Linked DNA regions of Homo sapiens. The protein of the gene in region 1 interacts with the protein of each later gene in a pairwise test. Each region holds a gene or a part of one and is shown in the gene's direction. Other genes may lie near its edges.

Region 1 (2,302 bases):
CTGGTAAGTCCCCCATTTAGTCTGAAGCTGTCCCAGGCTGCCAGCCAGGACTGGGAAACTGTGTTGAAGCTCCTGACTGAGAAGGTCAAGTTGCAGAGTGGGGCTGTGTGCAAGTGAGTATGGGGACTGCGAGGGCCCAAAAGTCCCCAAAGAGAGCCTCGCCACTGGCTTCAGCTGTGGCTGAGGATGAAGAGGCAAAAGGAAAGCATGTTCCCCCACATGGGACTTCCCCCTATGCCACTGGGAGAGGGCCCTCTGCCCAGCCCTCAGAGGCAGGGTAGAGCCTGGGTGCCTAGAGGCCAGAGGGCACCTTGGAATAGCTGCACCCACCCCTTCAGTCTGCTGAATGTGAAGAAGCATCGAGTCTACCAGCCCTTATCCTCCTCACCTCTCTCTCCCAGACTCTGCACCCTAGAGGGGCTCCCACTGTCAGCAGGGAAGGAGCTGGTAACTGGCCATTACTATGTGGCTGTCGGAGAGGATGAGTTCAAGGACCTTCCCTATCTGGAGCTGCTGGTGCCCAGCCCCTCCCTGCCCAGGGGCTGCTGGTATGTATGTGGGAGGTGGAGCGGTAACAGGCCGGGCAGAGGAAGCCACCCTCTGGGTCTGTGTGCTTTGACTCTATGCCCTCTGCCCACTACAAGCCTTTCCTTTTGTCATTGTAGGCAACCTCCAGGCTCGAAGTCTAGGCCCCACAGGCAGGGGGTAGGTGACGCAGGGGACAATGAGGGGTGGGAAGAAGGGGAGTGACTGGCTGACAACTCTTCTGGCACAGGCTCTGACCTTATTTCACTGCATCCTCTCTTTTTTCTTTTTCTTTGAGACAGAGTCTTGCTCTGTAGTCCAGGCTGGAGTGCAGTGGCAGGATCTTGGCTCACTGCAACCTCCGCCTCCCAGGTCCCGGTTCAAGCAATTCTCCTGCCTCAGCCTCCTGAGTAGCTGGGATTATGGGCACGCTCCACCATATCCAGCTAATTTTGTATATTTTTAGTAGAGATGGGGTTTCACCATGTTGGCCAGGCTGGTCTTGAACTCCTGACCTTGTGATCTGCCCGCCTCAGCCTCCCAAAGTGCTGGGATTACAGGCGTGAGCCACCGTGCCCGGCCTCCTTTTTTCTTTTAAATATAGAGATGAGTCTCACGATATTGCGAAGGCTGGTCTTGAACTCCTGGGCTCAAGCAATCCTCCCACCTTGGCCTCCCAAAGTGCTGTGATTACACTATGCCCAGCCTGCATCCTCTTAATAATTTTTTTTTTTTTTTTTGAGACGGAGTTTCACTCTTGTTGCTCAGGCTGGAGTGCAATAGCACAATCTCAGCTCACTGCAACCTCCACCTTCTGGGTTCAAGTGATTCTCCTGCCTCAGCCTCCCGAGTAGCTGGGATTACAGGTATGTGCCACCACACCCGGCTAATTTTTTTTTTTTTTTTTTTTTTTGAGATGGAGTCTCGCTCTGTTGCCCAGGCTGGAATGCAGTGGCGCAATCTTGGCTCACTGCCAGCTCCGCCTCCCGGGTTCATGCCATTCTCCTGCCTCAGCCTCCCGAGCAGCTGGGACTACAGGCACCCACCACCATGCCCGGTTAATTTTTTTTGTATTTTTAGTAGAGACGGGGTTTCACCGTGTTAGCCAGGATGGTCTCGATCTCCTGACCTCGTGATCAGCCCACCTCAGCCTCCCAAAGTGCTGGGATTACAGGCGTGAGCCACCGCGCTCAGCCACACCCGGCTAATTTTTTTAATTTTTAGTAGAGACAGGGTTTCTCCATGTTGGTCAGGCTGGTCTCAAACTCCCTCAGGTGATCTGCCCACCTCAGCCTCCCAAAGTGCTGGGATTACAGTCGTGAGCCACCTCGCCTGGCCACTCTTAATAATCTTGTGAAAGAAAGATTATCCCCATTTTCCAGAGGTGGAAACTGAAGCTGAAAAGTGAAGTGGGCCTTGGGCACGATGGCTCACACGTGTAATCCCAGCACTTTGGGAGGCTGAGGAGAGTGAATTACCTGAGGTCAGGAGTTCAAGACCAGCCTGGCCAACATGGTAAAACCCCATCTCTACTAAAAGTACAAAAAAATTAGCTGGGCATGGTGGTGGGTGCTTGTAGTCCCAGCTACTTGGGAGGCTGAGGCAGGAGAATCACTTGAACCTGGGAGGCGGAGGTTGTGGTGAGCTGAGATCACACCACTGCACTCCAGCCTGGGTGAGAGAGTAAGACTCAAGTCTCAAAAAAAAAAAAAAAAAAAAAAAAAGTGAAGTGATTTGTTCAGGGTGACAGAGTTATTGAGTGGCAGGGGCCAGACCA
Region 2 (3,500 bases), on another chromosome or scaffold:
ACAATTGTTACATCTTCTTGCTGAAGTGAAAATAACCTTGTCTCTTTTTGTTTAAAGTCTGCTTTACCTGATATAAGTATAGCTATTCTCCCTTGCTTTTGGTTTCCATTTGTATGGATTTTTTTTCCATCCCTTATTTTTATTCTATATGTGTCTTTTTAGGTGAAGTGAGTTTCTTTTAGGCAGCATATACTTAGGTCTTTTTTTTTTTTAATTCATTCAGCTAGTCTATATCTTTTCAGTTGGGAATTTAGTCTGTTTACAGCCAAGGTTATTATTGATAAGTGAGGACTTAACATCCACCATTTTGTTGTTTTCCTGTTGTCTTGTATATCTTTTGTTCCTTTCTTTTTCTCTTATAGTTAATCATTGTGGTTTGGTGGTTTTCTGTAGTGACAAGGTTTGATTCTTTTCTCTTTCTCCTCATATATCTGCTCTACCAATGAGCTTTATACTTTTGGTGTGTTTTCATGACAGTGATTTTCACTTCCAGATGTAAGTGAAAATCACTTAAGCATTTCTGGTAAGGCCAGGTGAGTGGTGACAAATTCCTTCAGTTTTTGCTTACCTCGAGAAGGCTTTATTTCTTCCTAATTTCTGAAGGATAACTTTGCTGGGTATAGTATTCTTAGCTAGCAATTTTTTTTCTTCTTTCACCATTTTGAGTTTATAACTCTATTCTCTCCTCGCCTGTGAGGTTTCTGTAGCAAAATTTACTAGTCTAATGCAGTTCTCTTATGTGACTTGACAATTTTCTCTTGCTGTTTTTAGAACTCTCTGTCTTTGACTTGTGACAATTTGCCTATAATGTACCTCTAAGAGGACCTTTTTGGGGTTGAATCTATTTGGGGAATTTTGAGTTTCCTGGAGCTGGATGTTCAAATATCCCTCCTCCACAACCCCCACCACTAAATTGGGAAGTTTTCAGTTATTATTTTATTAAACAGGCTTTCTATACTTTTTCCTTATCTTCTCCTTCTGGAAATTCCATAATACAAATATCTGTTTGTTTAATGTTTTCCAATAAGTCTTATAGGAATTCTTCACTCATTTTCATTCTTATTTCTTTTTTCTTTTCTCTGACTGGGTAACTTCAAAAGACCTAGCTTTAAGTTCAGAGATTCTTTTTTCTGCTTGATCAAGTCTGCTGCTGAAGCTCTCTATTGTATTTTATATTTTATTCATTGAATTCTTCAACTGCAGGATTCTTGTTTTGTTCTTTTTATGATTTTTATCTCTTTATTGAATTTTTCATTTATATTGTGAATTTTTTTCTTATTTTATTTAATTGTGTATCTGTGTTTCCTTGTATCTAATTGAGTTTCCTTACAATCATTATTTTACATTTTTTTGGCAATTAATTGATTTCCTTTTAATTGGAGTCTGTTACTAGAGAGTTATTATATTCCTTTGTTGGTCTCTTATTTCCTTGCTTTTTCATGTTTCTTGTGTCCCTGCATTGATGTCTGTGTATCTAGTGAAATAATCACCTTTTTCAAACTTTCTGGAGTGATTTTCATAAAGAAAGTCTTTCATCCTGCAGTTGAGTTTTACTGTGCAGTTAGAAAAGGTGTAGTGACTCTGTTTCCAGATAGGTATAGAGATAGAGTCTCTGTGCAGCTTCTTCAGTTGTATTCAAGGTCAGGAATAACTGTGGGTGCCTCATAGCCTACGCTTAGAGGTTTGTGGCAATGGCACTGGCAACATAAGTTTTTAATGTTCTTTGTGTTAAGGGCTTCTGGGGTCCTCCTATTCTGGTTTTCTCTAAAATAAGGAGACTTAGCTGAGCGCATCCCTTTTGGTGTCAAGTCTGACATGGCCTACAAGCAGCTGCAGTGGCATGGGTTCTACGTGCAGTGATCAGGATTCTACATGCAGTAGGAGTTTTCAGCTCAGTATCTCATAAAGCTATTGAGGCAACTGGGCTTGGGGTGCAGCTTCACCCCTTGTGGCAGGGTTGGATGTAGGTTACCCATAGAGCCAGGATCTATGATTCTGAGGGACCCCCTAGCAGCTCAGGCTCAGGGTGCCAGGTTGTAGCTGTGATTCTACCCCTGGGGGGCAGGGCACAGCACTGGCCTGACTCCAGGGAATAAGGAGTGCTCTGGAACTTTGGCCTTGGGAGCAGGGTATGGCTGCAATTCAGAAACCTGAGTCAATAGGGCTCAGTGTCAACTCAGGTTCCAAGGGATGAGGCACTGGGTAGTAGTGATTGTAGACCCTGGGATAGTGGTGCTCAGCAGTATCCCAGAATGTGTGGGGCCAAGTGTATTTGCTTTCAGTACTCCAGAATGGTGGAGGACAGCTGTTGTTTGTTCCCTGGGTGACAGGTGGGTAGGAAAAAACACAGCAATGACTCCACTCCCTAGATAGAGGGGTACTTCTGCATCTGAGACTCTAGAGAGCTAGGCCAGTGCTGGGGAATCGAAGTCTAAAATTGTTCAGTTTATAGAGCAAGGTGTCTCAGCTCAGTTTCTGCTCAGCTCAGCCAGAGCACTAATTCCCCAAGGGACAATGTGCCACTTCAGCTCAGGCTTGAAGGATGTGACTGTTCTGGGCTGCACAAGCACTGTTTTCTTGGGATGCGGGGCATCAGTTCAGCTTAAGTAATGGAGTGCATGACTGCTCTGGATGGCCAAGGCACAATTTCCTAGGATGCAGGGCACCACTTCAACTTAGACACCAGGGAGACATGACTGCTCTGAATAGCCAAGGTACTGTTTTCCCAAGAGACAGGATGCTGCTTCAGCAGGGGCAGGGGGAGGAGTTGGTAGAGCAATTCCACCTCCACTTGACCCCACAGGAAAAAGTGTTAACAGCTGTTAACAGCACATATTGGGGATGTGGGGCTCTGGGGATGGGGTGGTTCAGGGGTGGTTTAGTCTCAGGGATGAAGGGGAGCCATGACTACTTACTCCTTGAGTAAGGCTCAGTCTAGCTGTAGTTCCTGTTCCAAGATGCCATAGCCAATAGTCACATGGGCCACAGCAGGTGGGGCACAGTGTCAACTCCTTCTCTGGCTAAGCACAGCTATATAGACTCCAGGCAGCTTCACCATGTGGGCTTGGTGCCTAAGAAGACTGCAGAGAACACCAGTGGGAAGGTCTGTTGGTGTCCAGGGTGTTGATGGAGATTGTTGGAGTCATCCTGCTTACCTCCTCACCATAAGAAGTTCCTCCTGGCTTCCAGCTGATCCCACTTGGGGGATGGGATGGTGAAGGCCTGGCATTTCCTTATTCTCTATGTAGCCATCCTGAGTTTTTGTGCTCACCCAAGTTTCTATTAGTTTTAAAATGCAGCTGCTTTTCCATTGTTCTGGCTGTCTTTGACAGAGGCATAAGCACTAGGGGCTTCTAGTTGGCTATCTTGCTGCTATCTCTCTGACCTTTAATACTTTTAGAAAGAAGATTAACCGTTCTCCTGATCAAGGTATCAAACTATTTATTATCTTTGACAGTACCAAAAAGTCATACATACATGTAATTCATTCATTCATATTT

The links. The genes of interacting proteins can lie anywhere in the genome.
Region 2: the proteins of DCDC2B (region 1) and FHL5 interact in binary tests that used the Homo sapiens proteins (3 or more experiments, as listed by UniProt).

What each region holds. Positions count from the first base shown.
Region 1 is NC_000001.11:32,212,089-32,214,390, forward strand, and holds part of DCDC2B (doublecortin domain-containing protein 2B), read left to right. Parts: coding exon 1-113; intron 114-401; coding exon 402-548; intron 549-665; coding exon 666-705; intron 706-2,302.
Region 2 is NC_000006.12:96,569,628-96,573,127, forward strand, and holds part of FHL5 (four and a half LIM domains protein 5), read left to right. Parts: intron 1-3,500. UniProt on the Homo sapiens protein: May be involved in the regulation of spermatogenesis. Stimulates CREM transcriptional activity in a phosphorylation-independent manner.